4 linked regions of the Homo sapiens genome follow. The protein of the gene in region 3 interacts with the protein of the main gene of each other region in a pairwise test. Each region holds a gene or a part of one and is shown on either strand. Other genes may lie near its edges.

Evidence for each region. Proteins that work in one complex are often made in the same cells at the same time.
Region 1: the proteins of WNK1 (region 3) and MADD interact in a two-hybrid assay, tested with the Homo sapiens proteins (one large-scale study listed by IntAct).
Region 2: the proteins of WNK1 (region 3) and ZNF106 interact in a two-hybrid assay, tested with the Homo sapiens proteins (one large-scale study listed by BioGRID).
Region 4: the proteins of WNK1 (region 3) and SIMC1 interact in a two-hybrid assay, tested with the Homo sapiens proteins (one large-scale study listed by IntAct).

Annotation. Positions count from the first base shown.
Region 1 is NC_000011.10:47,276,633-47,280,132, reverse strand, and holds part of MADD (MAP kinase-activating death domain protein), read right to left. Parts: intron 3,402-3,500; coding exon 3,270-3,401; intron 1,969-3,269; coding exon 1,855-1,968; intron 1,135-1,854; coding exon 1,054-1,134; intron 1-1,053. UniProt on the Homo sapiens protein: Guanyl-nucleotide exchange factor that regulates small GTPases of the Rab family. Converts GDP-bound inactive form of RAB27A and RAB27B to the GTP-bound active forms.
Region 2 is NC_000015.10:42,446,142-42,449,641, forward strand, and holds part of ZNF106 (zinc finger protein 106), read right to left. Parts: intron 2,565-3,500; coding exon 1,931-2,564; intron 536-1,930; coding exon of another isoform or gene 518-535; coding exon 448-517; intron 1-447. UniProt on the Homo sapiens protein: RNA-binding protein. Specifically binds to 5'-GGGGCC-3' sequence repeats in RNA. Essential for maintenance of peripheral motor neuron and skeletal muscle function.
Region 3 is NC_000012.12:906,079-909,578, reverse strand, and holds part of WNK1 (serine/threonine-protein kinase WNK1), read right to left. Parts: intron 1,733-3,500; coding exon 1,545-1,732; intron 1,105-1,544; coding exon 787-1,104; 3' UTR 1-786. UniProt on the Homo sapiens protein: Serine/threonine-protein kinase component of the WNK1-SPAK/OSR1 kinase cascade, which acts as a key regulator of blood pressure and regulatory volume increase by promoting ion influx.
Region 4 is NC_000005.10:176,342,924-176,346,423, reverse strand, and holds the end of SIMC1 (SUMO-interacting motif-containing protein 1), read right to left. Parts: intron 1,242-3,500; coding exon 979-1,241; 3' UTR 435-978; downstream 1-434.

The DNA.
Region 1 (3,500 bases), on a different chromosome or scaffold from region 3:
AAATCAATCAATAAAAAATGGATGTGAGGAATTACTCAAAGAAAGGAATTTTTTTGTTTGTTTGAGACTGAGTCTCACTCTGTGGCCCAGGCAGGAGTGCAATGGCGCAATCTTGGCTCACTGCAACCTCTGCCTCCTGGGTTCAAGTGATTCTTCTACCTCAGCCTCCTGAGTAGCTGGACTACGGGCGTCCACCACCATGCCCGGCTAATTTTTGTATTTTTAGTAGAGACAGGGTTTCAACATAATGGCCAGGCTGGTCTTCAACTCCTGACCTCGTGATTCACCTGCCTCGGCCTCCCAAAGTGCTGGGATTACAGGCATGAGGCACCGTGCCCAGCCAAATAAAGGAATTTTTGAAGAAAGGAACCCTCAGGATCAACTCTAGAAGATAATATAAAAGCAGCCAGACGGTCCACACTACTAACTTCCACCTAACAAGACTGAGAAAATCGGCCGGGCGCAGTGGCTCACGCCTGTAATCCCAGCACTTCGGGAGGCTGAGGCAGGCGGATCATGAGGTCAGGAGATAGAGGCCATCCTGGCTAACATGGCAAAACCCCGTCTCTACCAAAAATACAAAAAAATTAGCCGGGTGTGGCGGCGTGCGCCTATAGTCCCAGCTCCTGGAGAGGCAGAAGAATGGCGTGAACTCAGAAGGCAGAGCTTGCAGTGAGCCGAGATCGCGCCACTGCACTCCAGCCTAGGGGACAGAGCAAGACTCCACATCTCAAAAAAAAAAAAAAAAAAAGACTGAGAAAATGTTCTGAAGCCATAGAGAGTGGCACACATACAAGAAACAGAGAGTGAAGGGCTATTTTATACAGCATCATAAGCATTAGAAGATGGTAAAGCATACAATGAATTGGAATCAAAAACAGAAATTCACTCTGCCACCCAGAAATGGGATACGCGTTTTCTTAAGCCCATCCAGGGTGAAGAAAACTACTCCACTTGAAGTTTGATAGGAAATTGGCTCTGAGAATAGCTGTCTTCTTATAGGAATCCCACAGCATCTAATACTCCCCTTTCTTTCCTTCGTTCTTCACCTACCTGCTTTAAATGCTTTTTCAGCTCTAGTGATTCTGGTTCTGGCAGGATAGGCAGCACTTCTGCATTGGTGGGGGCAATCACCTGCACCAGAGAAATGATAAAAGACGTGACCTTAGAGTTTATTGCTCAGGAATTTCACTTACATAAATAAAAATAAGAGGACGTATATACATTATTATTATATAAACGAATATACATTATATAACTGCACAGTAAGATATATGTACACACATATATGACATACATATGCATCTGAAATGAAATATAACTTAATGTTATTGGTTATTATCTCTAGATAAAAGGATTATGGTTTTTCTTTTCACTTATTTTATTTACGCTTATTTTTATTTTTTTTAAGTTTTACAATGAGCACACATAAGGGCTTCCCACCAAAGTCTGAATGTATTCACATTGCAGAATGGTCATATAATTAATTAAGCCTGCACTGAAAGACAGTTTCTTACTGGAAACTATACCCCAGGGAAACCATTAAGAGATGATCTATACCACATGTAATGGCCCTCAGATCACAACTGTCTGACTGCTCTTGGAGGATATGGTGGGGGGTCACTTAATTCTGGCAAAAATAAATCCTGTAATTCTCTGAGACCTAACCAAGGGTTTATTTGGCTAATAAGGTAAAAGGAGCATTTAAAAAAACTTGTTTCAGTAAGTCTCGCAATAGAAATTATCCAACAACTTAGGACGTTCCTGAAAGGAATCTAGAAACAGATATCTCAGGACTGGGTCTAGAATGCAATCCTCCTCTAGACTCTACAATGCCTCAGCCAAGAACCTCACCCTATTGCTGTCCAGATCCACTAGCCATACATCATCAGGCATTTTGAAGTCCAGTTTGTAGAGGAAGAAGCTGGCAGGAACCCCAATGATGTACGGGGTTGGAGCCAACAGCAGCTGTGGAAATGATAAAGAAGGTGAGAAACAAAGACAAAACCTATCATGAGCACTTATCAAGTCTGGATTCTTCTAGATAAGGAAATGCAGATACAATCCCTCTTCCAAAACTCTTGAGGCCAGATGTATTTGAAAATTCAGAATTTTTCAGATTTTTTGAAAGGTAACATGGTACATTTTTTTGTATACAGTAGTCTTTCTTATCCACAGTTTCACTTTCTGTGATTCCAGTTAACTGAGGCAAACTGTAGTCTGAAAATATTAAAAGGAAAATTCCAGAAATAAACAATTCATAAATTTTAAACTGCAGCTTGATCATATCTGAAGTGCAGGACAATAGTTCTGAGAAGCATGATGAAATCTCATGCTGTCCCGCTCTGTCCCACCCAGACATGAATCACCCCTGTGTCCAGCCTGTAGCCATCTCGGTTATCAGATCAACTGTCACACAATCTCAGCGTTTGTGTTCAAGTAACCCTTATTTTACTTAATAATGGCCCCAAAGCACAAGGGTACTGATGCTGGCAATTGGGATATGCCAAAGAGAAGCCAAATATATGTAGAAAGAGGCTGGGCACGGTGGCTCATGCCTGTAATCCCAGCACTTTGGGAGGCTGAGGCAGGCGGATCACCTAAGGTCAAGAGTTCAAGACCAGCCCAGCCAACATGGTGAAACCCCGCCTCTACTAAAAATACAAAAAATTATTTGGTGTGTGGTGGTGGCAGTGCCTGTAATCCCAGCTACTAGGGAGGCTGAAGCAGGAGAATCACTTGAACCTGGAAGGCAGAGGCTCCAGTGGGCCGAGATTGTGCCACTGTACTCCAGCCTGGGGGATAGAGGGAGACTCTGTCTCCAAAAAACACCAAATATATGCCCAAAGAGAAAACTGTTACTCTCTTACTGTGTCTAATTCATAAATTAAACGGTATCACCGGTATATATGTATAGAAAAAAACAAAGTATCTATAGAGTTTGGAACTATCTGTGGTTTGAGGCATCCACTGGTGGGTCTTGGAATGTGTCCTCCACAGATAAGGAGGAACTACTGTATTACGTAACACACGTAACACCTGCTGCAGTGTAGCCAGTGGCCTACAGTCATTAACATTTGTTGTGATAAATGAAAACTAAAATAGCATAAGCCTTGCCACCAGATCAGTTCAAATCAGTCAGATTTTGTAGACAAATAAGTTATGACAAAGGATTGAGGACCAGCACTCACTTACAACTTCTTTGAGCATTAAGCCTCCTCCCTCAGGAAGACAGAGGTGAGAAAGCCGGAAGTCGCCTTGAGACTCACCTGCTCTGCTGATGCCATGCAGGTGGGTAGCAGCGGGATGACAGGAAACATATACTCCAGTGGGTAGATCATTGCCACGAATGCCATCACAGACATGGAGAGTGCATTGTAGTCTCGGGACTGTAGCACCACCTGTCATGAGCCATCCAGTAAGAATCACTCCAAAACATAAAATATGGTTTACAAGAAAACAGCTTCCAACATTACAACTTGGTTTCCACTTCATCGAGC
Region 2 (3,500 bases), on a different chromosome or scaffold from region 3:
TTAACTGGATGTATTAGGAAATCAAACTTTTCTTTCCTCTTAAGCAAGGCAACAAAAATGTCCAAAAAAAGTAAATGGACAATCAGTGTTTGATAAATGACAAGCTATGCTCTGTGTCAAGCTGCACAAACGCTGAACTGCTACAAGAACCTCTTGGGGCTGGGCACGGTGGCTCACATCTATAATCCTAACACTTTGGGAGGCCAAGGTGAGAGGATCACTGGAGTCCAGGAGTTTGAGTCCAGCCTGGGCAATATAGCTAGACCCTGTCTCTACAAAAAAATAAAAGAATTAATGTAGTGTCACATACCAGTAGTCCTAGCTGCTCGGGAGGCTGAGAGAAGAGGATTGCTTGAGCCCAAGAGTTGGAGGTTACCAAAAACCCGCACCCCCCAAAAAAAACCAAAAAACACCAACTTCTTTCTTCCAAAATATTCTGCACCATACCTTTTTTTCCTTTAATTTTCCTTCTTTTATTTTTTCTCTCAAGACTTGGGAGTTCAGGAGAAGATCCATCCTGGAAGGATAAAGAAAACTGAATAAAATCCAATGTGTAAAAGCCATTATCCAAGAGGAGAAAAAGGAATCAATTCTAAGATAGCCATACACTGTTCTTCACTATTGCTACCATCTCTAACATGATCGTAGAAGTCTCACGCACGTGGTACCAACGCAAACTTTAGTTGAATAAACGTATCTGATTTAAAAAAAAAGAATCCAGGGTGAAGTGCCTCCTAGCATCCTAGAGGTAGGAAAGCCCATGGAGGTCAGGGAAAGCATTTCATCTTGGTGTAGTAAGGCACAAGTAGAAGTATAGACAAAGCCAGTAAAATAAATATATCTGATTTATAACTTGGCATAGTTTCTACTTTAAATTTCAGCAAGAAAACCTTTACAACAAAAAGCTTAACAGTCCATGAGACAAGCTCTTTGTCATAGGACAATCCCTCAGCTTGAAGTGTATTTTAAGTCATCCAGTAACATCCACTACATATAGCATCTAGCTCAAAGGAGCAGAATTGCAATTTGAAGCAAGTCTAAAATTCATGACCTTAACTACTATGCTTATCACCTCAGTATTAAATGAGAGAAGCCCAGCACAGTGACACATGCTTGTAGTCCCCGCTACTTGGGAGGCTGAGGCAGGAGGACTGCTTGAGTTCAGGAGTTCCAGAGCAGTATGGACAACATTGTGAGACCTCATCTCTAATATAAATTTTAAAATATTATAAAATAAATAAATAAATAATGAAGAGAAGAACCCATTTTTTTTCACATTGCCAGATCCCAGACTGTATCACTACCAGCAACTCTTTCTTTTCAGAAAGGGATACTGAGAGGGTTAAGCCAATATTAGCGGCAGAAATGCCGGAAGAGCAGAAGTGGTATCAGTGAAATAAAAGACTCTTAAAGGCCAGGGTGGGTAACTGAAGGACGAAGGACAGAGTTACACAGACTAAAAATATTTCTATACTCTGCTCATATATATGCACTCTAATAGTATTAAAACCATCTTAGTGTTAAGCCTATCACTCCTGAATCCAGCAATCATCCATGCCCTACAAGTGCAACAGTAGAACGCCTTTCTTCAGTAGCAGTGCAGAACGCATCTATGAAAACAGATTGGGTTACAGCTGAATATGTGACTTATCCTTGGTCAGGTGATACAAAGAATCATTGGCTTGGACACTGGTTTTAGATATGACTTCATATTTTCCTGGTACTGTACATTCATATTAGATTACATTTAATTTAGCAGAATTACTCAGTGTAAGAAACCAGTAGGATGAAAGTAAGAACCTCACAATTCTTCTAGAAGTTGAGAGAATCACAATCCCAGATACCCAAGAAAAACAGTTGAACCTTTTTTCATAAGCAACCAACTTGCCACATGCGATGTTCTACAAAAAGCAGAGGGAATTATACTCACTCCAGTGGCTCTTCGTTTCTTTCTAATACTTTGGCCATCATTTTGTTCAGCACCAGAGGTACAGCTACTATCTGTGGCTGCATCCGCTAAACTGGAGATCGCAAGGGCTGAGGATGCGCTTGATGACAGACAGTTTCCCTCTCCATTACTCTCCTGGGAATTCTGATTCTCTGACGGTGGTATAGACCTCTCCTGGCTGTTCAAGTCTTTTGCCAAATGCATCAAAGGTATTATATGGTCAGAGGATAATTGTGCACTATGTCGCCTTTGGGTAGCAACATTTTCAGCCCTTTCACCTGTTCGGAGGGAGGCAGCCCGAGGTGTCACTTCTTGTTTGAGGTGCATGGTTGCTTTCTGGCTCTGTCCAGCCCTCAATGAGTTACTAGGTGAAACCATCTGCTGGGGCTCATTTTCTTTGCCTGTACCTTCCTCACTGAAGAAGCTATACACAGAAGGAGCTCTGTCCATGATCACGCTGCTCTCAGAAAGGCTTCGCTTTCTTGCCAAGCCAGGGGACGAGGAAATGGAAACACCTTCCCACTGGAATCCTTCTAGACTGGACAGATCAGGTTCCCCATCCAAATCTAAGGCTTCTTGTTCATTTTGAACAAGGGGTACCATTTCTATGCCAAACCTTAAGGAAGAAAGAAAAAATGAAAACATAAATTGGATATGGTTGTTGGGAGGGGCATTATTTTTTAATGTGCCAGGCTCTCTCAAGCACTGAGGTTATAAAAAGTAAGGTGGCTCTTGCCTTCAAGGGGCTCACAGTCTAGTCAGTGGTACAGATATAAATATATTACGTTGTCACAAGTACCAGATTAGAGGTTTGTATACAGCTATAATAATATATTTGAGGGAGTAAAAATTGAGTTTTGTTTCATATGGAGCGCTAAATCTATAATAATACATACAGCATATAATTTTTAAAAGCAAACAAACCAAAACAAAAAAAAAAACCCTTTTACTGAGCACTTACAAGTGCTTTATACTTACAATTTCAAATGCTACTCACAAGGTGTGGGAAAGGAAAGTGGGGGGAAATAAACCCATTATTTCAACAAGTACAGAAATGCCCCTGAAGCCTGGAGAACTGTATCATCATGCAGCAGAGTTATGACTTTCAAGTAGCAAACTTACGTTGAACACTGTTTTAGCATTCAGAAAAGTCTAGTACCTCAACATAAGATGAAGAGCCAAAATATTACACAAGCGCTTAAGAGAAAGCATGTTGTAGTCATAAAGATAATGCCCAGAGTACATACAGAAAAGTTAACTATTCGTAGGTTCTAAGTAAAAGGTAATGAGAACAGTTGTATTTAAAAGTTATAGCACGCATTCCAAAATTAAGATCTAGAAAAAGACAGAGATCTATAGCTCTACATTTTTATGCTGTCATTTTCTACCCCTATAAAGTGACGGATTTTACCCCTGTAAAGCCATGACTTTTTTCCTACGTCACCACCTTGTTTCTCAAGTAGGTGTGCTTCCATTTTAACCTGCACTCTCTGCTAGGAAATACTTTATTCCATCTGTCATAGAGTATCAGTCACTATTTGATATTAAATCA
Region 3 (3,500 bases):
GTGTCTCAATAAGTAAAGGACAGAGCTAGCTTTTTTTGGAACTTTTTAAACGTTTCATATTTTACTCTTAAAACTACTGTTGTCCAACAACATTTTATATATCACAGTGTTTCCACATCAAAACTGATGGCAAAGTTACATGTCCGCAGGGAACTTAATTTTTTTTTTTTCCTAATTGCTAATGCTGCAGTCAAAGCTGCTAATATCTTTTGCTTAAAGCACTAATGACCTATCATAAGAAAGAGTTGCACCCCAGTACCCTGGTATTTTTCACTGGGTTCTAAAGAGCAAAGAAAAAATAAAAAAGAGAGGGGTAAAAAAAAGGGAGGAGGGCAGGGTAGGAGAGAGCCCAGTAGGTGGTTTTTGTCCTGTGGTTCGGATTCTTGAGGGAGTGAGGGATTCAGGGCATGTACCAAAAGCAAGAGCTCCACCCACTCGAAATTACAGATGGGTTTGATTTTACATTGAGTTCTCCAGCTTCCTTATGAACAAGACTTTCCTAGCCCTCATCCTCATTACTGAGTATAGATAAACAGGAAAGCATGGTCTGAAGCTGCCCCTTGACAAAAAAGCTGTTCTTTCCTTCCTCTCCCATTCCAATAACTGGAGCGGGGGAGACTCTCCATTCTGAGGGCTCAATGCAGTATTAAAAACATTCCCCTCTGGCAAGAAATAACCAGTTAAATGCAGCACTAGTAGTTAGTATATAGGCTACTTCCCACCCCCACCCACCCCCTCAGCATTCCATCTCCTGCCCCCAGATCTATTCAGTTAATGTCTCTAGGTCTAAGTGGTCCGCAGGTTGGAGCCTGGGGGGTTGCTGATGGATTTCTGCAAATTGCTGATGTTGAAATTCTGCAAGGAGGCAGTTCCCACAGGTTGGAACTGGCCAAGTGGCTGTGGTGCTGGGCCACCCGTCCCACTCCATTGAGCGCCAAATGGGGTAGCTGGAAAGCCATACTGCTGTGGGGGGCACATAGACTTGGTGAAGTGACCTAGAGAGGTAGCTGATGCTGCAGAGATGGGGGCAGAGCCACCCAGGTTCGAGGTCATGGAGATGCACAGTTGCCCAGGTGCAGAGAACTTCCTTGCCATTCCAGGGCCCTGAAAACAAAACCACCACGTGTCAAGTCTGGTGTGGGCCATGGTATAAAATGTGTGGCGCTAACATATACTTCTAGTATAATCCTGTAAGATACAGCAGAACAGTCTTCTGTAGTATTTATTGGCTCTTTATATTTACCAAGTAAGGGTGAAAATAATCCTCATGAGAGGGAGGGATGTCATGTGCGTGTGTGTCTGTGTGTGTGTAGTTGAGGATGACGAAGGAAAAACGAAGAAGAAAAAGTTGAGCTGACCAACAAGAGGTTAGGAATTCAGGGAAGGAAAAATAAAAGGGTACCTGGGGGATTTTTGCCTTGTTTTTCTAAAGTATTAAAATTGAAGAAGGTCGTGGCGTAAGACGTTAAGCAGCAGCTTAGTTGTTTCTATCACCTTGACTCAGATGTGTGTTACGGATTCTCTGCGGCAAAAGAGAGACTTACCTCGTAATTCATGTGCCCTTTGCTTCCTCTCCTGCCTGAGAGATTCATGGCATCTCGGGCCCAATTGTCTACCAACTTGTGCAAGTCATCTGTGAATGTGCCCTTCCTGCTGGACGTCATGGCAGGAGGCTGAGCTTGGGCGGCTTGGCTGTTCACTGTTGCCCCAACAGTGTTTGTGCTGCTGGTTCCTATTATAAGCAACAGAATACGAGCATTAAAAGAAGCCTAGGTTACAATTTCAGGAAGAGGGAAAACTTCACGGGATGATGAATGGCAAGCCACAGAATGAGAAGAGGATGAACTGGGAAGCCATGCAAGAGGGAAGATTCCAAGGTTTTGTTTAGCCATTTGTTTTGGTATAATAGGGTGATGAAAACAGTTTCTCTTCAGTAGCTGCTGCTAAGGCTGAACAACTCAGGATGACGGTAGGTACACAGGCAGGGGCCTCTTTCAGTCCATTCACAAAGCACCTAAGAGTATTGGAACTGCTCGCCAGTACGCTATTCCCAGCATCACGTTGCTGATGGAGGTGTGATACAATCAGCAAGGCTAGTTGCTCTGGAATTTTGCAGAATGCAGGGAAAAAGAGGTTTTCTTGTGCATTGGGCACGGTTAAAGTAGGAGTAGGAAAAGATGCTTGGCTAAGGATAAGGAGAAGGTGGGTTTCCAAACCATTGGACACTGCCACATTCTTTAGCCTTTTTTTTTTTTTTTGAGATGGAGTCTCACTCTATTACTCAGGCTGGAGTGCAGTGGTACGATCCTACCTAACTGCAACCCCTGCCTCCTGGGTTCAAGCGATTCTCCTGTCTCAGCCTCCAGAGTAGCTGGGATTGTAGGTGTGCACCACCATGCCCAGTTAATTTTTGTATTTTAGTAGAGACAGGGTTTTGCCGTGTTGGCCAGGCTGGTCTCAAGAACTCCTGACCTCAGGTGATCCGCCCGCCTTGGCCTCCCAAAGTGCTGGGATTACAGACGTGAGCCACCACGCCCGGCTTTTTTTTTTTTTTAAAGGAAGGGTCTCTTCTTTTTCTGTCACCCAGGCTGGATACAGCGGCACAATCACGTCTCACTGCAGCCTCCAACTCCTCCTGCCTCAGCCTCCCAAGTAGCTTGGGACTAGACGTATGCACTTCCACACCCAGTTAATTTTTTACTTTTTTATATAGACAGAATCTCCATATGTTGCTTAGTCATGAACTGCTGGGCTCAGGCAATCCTGCCATGTCAGCCTCCCAAAGTGCTGGGATTACAGGTGTGAGCCACCATGCTCAGCCTAGCCATTCTTTAAATAGAGAGAGGTAATAAGAGAAGTAGCATGCTGTGTTCAGAAAAGTTTTTCACCTGGACCCATAAACATGAATTTGCAAACATAAACTTGGGAGGGGTTAACCTCTCCCAATTTCCCATGAGTAAAGAACAAGATTATTCATGAGGAAAGGACTGTATGGTGTGCCTGAATCTTTCAACTTCAGGAAGACATGGTTTTCCTGAAGATGACCTCAGTTTCAATTGGCTCAAGGATTCCCACCGCTTCTCCCCACTCTTCCCAGAACAGCAAGCACTCCCATGTAGAAGCGACAAGAAAATGCAGCTGAGGCAGGGTGCAAAGGGGAGGAGGAAGCTTTGCGGTTATGATGAAGGAACTCTATTTCTGCGGTTTGATGAGAGAGGAGGGAGTCTATGCCTGCCTGATTTCGGCTCTGCTGGAGGGCACACTGAAGATTATTCCAAGAGGCACGTTTTGGGGAAGAGGGAAAGAAGAGTCATGGTCTTGTCTGTTTTCCTTACCCCCCACTGTCTTACCAGATCTCACGTGTTACAGAATAAATAAAAGCTCCTAAAGTAAGTTGTGAACCACTAGTCCTTAAGGTACCCAAGTAATGCGGGGGTAAGTAAGTGCATGCGTTATCCTGCTTTCAAGGTCAAAGCAGCACCAGATCACAGCAGCACACC
Region 4 (3,500 bases), on a different chromosome or scaffold from region 3:
TTTCCTTGTTCAGGTCAGGGCCTGGAACGCCTGTGCGGGGAGGTCACTCAATTCAAAATTTTCTGTATGAAAGCATTTTTCACCAAAATGAGCCTCATCCCTTTATGCAACACATAACCTTACTGAGGGAGGGAAATACAGAAGCCACCTTTTTATTTCTCTTCACTGTGTACAAGTTCACTTGTTGTCTTGAACACTGTCTCAAATACCTGCTTTTTGTTTTGGATAGTACCTTGTCTGTATAAGAAGCTGGCCTTTCCATAGAGAGGCCCTGGAGTCTAAAATTATGAGAACAATTAATTTATTTGTGTCTTCTATTATGATCTCGTTTTGACAATAAAAATCCTTACTACTTTCTCAAATGTGGCTATTTTTTTGTCCTTTTAACAATAGTTATTCCACTCTACCCACCCAGAGTCACACTGAACTTGGTATTTTGAAAAACCATTGCCTTTTTATTGTCTCCTTTTAACATCAAATGTTTTATAACACACTTGATCCTTTTGTTTCTACCCCCTATTCATTACAGTCAAATTAACAGGCAATATAATAGGTCTAACAGAATGCTTGCATTTCATTAGGGAAAAATGAACGTCTCTCTCCTGAAACAGGTTGTCGGTACCTTGAATGACATAATATTGGTGTATAGACTAGGTTCAGCAGAGGGATTTTTTCCACATCTTGAATGAAAATGTTAAACATGTGATGCACAGAGTATTAACCTGTTTCAAAAAAGTATAGATAAATAATTTATTAAAAAATATATATACCTTGTATATTTAAGCCATATTTGAGAACAGGCTAGGATAGGATTATTTAAAAAAAGATATTTACTAGAGTTAGAAATTACAACCTACTGATTAAATAATGCAGGTTTGGTCCTGTAAGATTTTAACCACTTTTCATGCTTTTAGAGCTTCTGAGCAGTTGGAGAGAGAGTTCAGGAGGTATTCTTGGCATTCAGTGCTTGGCAGGCCCTCAGGAGCCGCTCCAGCCCTTTTGAAAGGGCTCTGCATCAGGGTTCAAGTCCGCAGCATAGAAGAGCAGGAGCTTCAACAAGTGCACTTTGTCTTGGAGTTGGGGGACAAGAGGCTCCCCCAGCATCTGGATCAGGCGGCTGCGGAAGGCCTCAATCTGCTTCTCTACGTCTACCACTGTGATGTCATCTCCTTGCTGGGGTTTGGGCTTAATCCTTTTGATTATTAAGTCCTTTCGGTCGATCACGGAACTCCTTAAGTGTTCTGCAAGAGGGAAAAAAGTCAGTTGGGTGCTCTGAACTGCTTTTTAATTCTTTTTAAGAAGTCTAATTTTGGTAGGTAGAGTCTTGGCAAAGACTTGCTGACTAGCTACAGGGATACAAGTCGAAGGCTGTGTGAGTGCCTGCAGTAACTCCACTTCCAAAAGGCCCTTTGTTCTCAGTTCTCTCGGGTCCTTAAGAAGTTTTACATTAAAAAAAGTGATATGGTTTGGATCTGTGTCATTTTTTATGATCACATAACATGGTCAAAAAATGAAAATACTGAGGAAACAATTAGACATATTCATCTAGTCCATGTTTTAGCCAATAGTATTTAACATGAGTATGATCATGAATAAACAACTAGACAGTCCCAAATTGTAATCCCTGATGTTGGAGGTGGGGCCTGGTGGGGGTGATTTCTCATGAATGGTTGAGCACCATCCCCTTGGTGCTGTTCTAGTGATGGTGAGTTATCATGAGGTCTGGTGGTTTAAAGTGTTTACGTAGCACCTCCTCACTCTTTATTCTGCTGTGGCCACGTAAAACGTGTCTGCTTCCCCTTGAGCCACGATTGTGTTTCCTGAGGCCTCACTGGAAGCAAAGGCCACTATGCCTCCTGTACAGCCTGTAGAACTGTGAGCCAACTAAACTTTTCTTTATAAATTACCCAGTCTCAGGTGTGTGTGTGTGTGTGTGTGTGTGTGTGTGTGTGTGTATACTCCTGACCTCAAGTGATCCGCAAGCCTCGGCCTCCCAAAGTGCTGGGATTACAGGTGTGAGCCACCGTGCCTGGCCTACTCCATGTTCTTGTCAACAGTATTTAACATGAGTGTGATCACGAGTAAGCAATTAAACATCCCAATCATAGGACATGTACAAAATAACTGGCCTGGACTCTTAAAAAATGTCTATTATGAAAGACAAGTAAAAGCTGGGAACTGTGCTGGACTAAAGGAGACCAAAGAGTATGACTGCCAAGTACAGTGCTTCATATTTGACCGTATCCTGGCTCAATCTAAAATCAACTACCTAAAAAGTATATTACTGGGACACTATTAGATAATATTCTATCAAGAACAAGTTTCATGGCAGGCTGTGGTGGCTCATGCCTGTCATACCAGTGCTTTGGGAGGCGGAGATGGGCAGATCACCTGAGGTCAGGAGTTTGAGACCAGCCTGGCCAACATGGTGAAACCCTGTCTCTACTAAAAATACAAAAAAATTAGCTGGGCATGGTGGTGCATGCCTGTAATCCCAGCTACTCGGAAGCCTGAGGGTGGGAGAATTGCTTGAACCCGGGAGGTGGAGGTTGTAGTGAGCCAAGATCACACCACTGCACTCCAGCCTGGACGACAGAGCTAGACTCCGTCTCAAAAAAAACAAAACAAAACAAAACAAAAAAACAAAAAAAGAAAAGTTTCGTGAGTGTGATAATGCACAGTGGTATGAAGTACAATATCCTTACGCTTAGGAGATACATGCTGAACATGCTGAAGTACTTAAGCAATACAATTATGATGGCGCACTTATCAACTGTTTCAGAAAAAATGGTATATACATGGATCAATAGGTAAACCAAATGTGTCAAAATCTTAGAAGCTAATGAATCAGCGTAAACGGTATATATATGGGCATTCGTTATACTATTCTTTCTACTTTTCCGTAGGTCTAAAAATGAAAATAGGAAAACAAAAAGTTATAAAGGTATCTCATCCCAAATCTACAGGCCAGCCCCAATAGATTCTAGAAGTGTGTGGAATTGAGGCAAATGAGCAGAAGGTCACATTAGGCAAATGTATTGAGAGAGTTCTGGGGACTTGAAGACTTCCAGTTGCACATAAGTACACCATCATTTCTCAGTCTCCTCATTTATCAAACGGGGATGATGGCACTTTCACTAACAGTTATTAAAAGGACTGAGCTACACTGTATCCAGATTTAGGACACAGAACAAATCATTTTAAGTGGTATATCAGGTTACATTTTAAGCGGTTTATCAGGTTACATTTTCAAGTAATACATTCAATATGTTTTTTCTCAACCTTCAGATAAAATGATGGAAAAGCAAAATCTCTCAAAACTAAAGTCTGTAATCTGTGAAGAAGTACAGTAAGTATACAACAGCATGTTCAAAAAGTCTGGAAACACAGGAAACAAAGCTGCCTTGAGATGGAAGTGCAAGGCCCTTTCAACCTTCAAACAGCACACATTTACTGAGCACCTACTGCATATCAGGAACTGGCTAGAGTCTGGGGACACA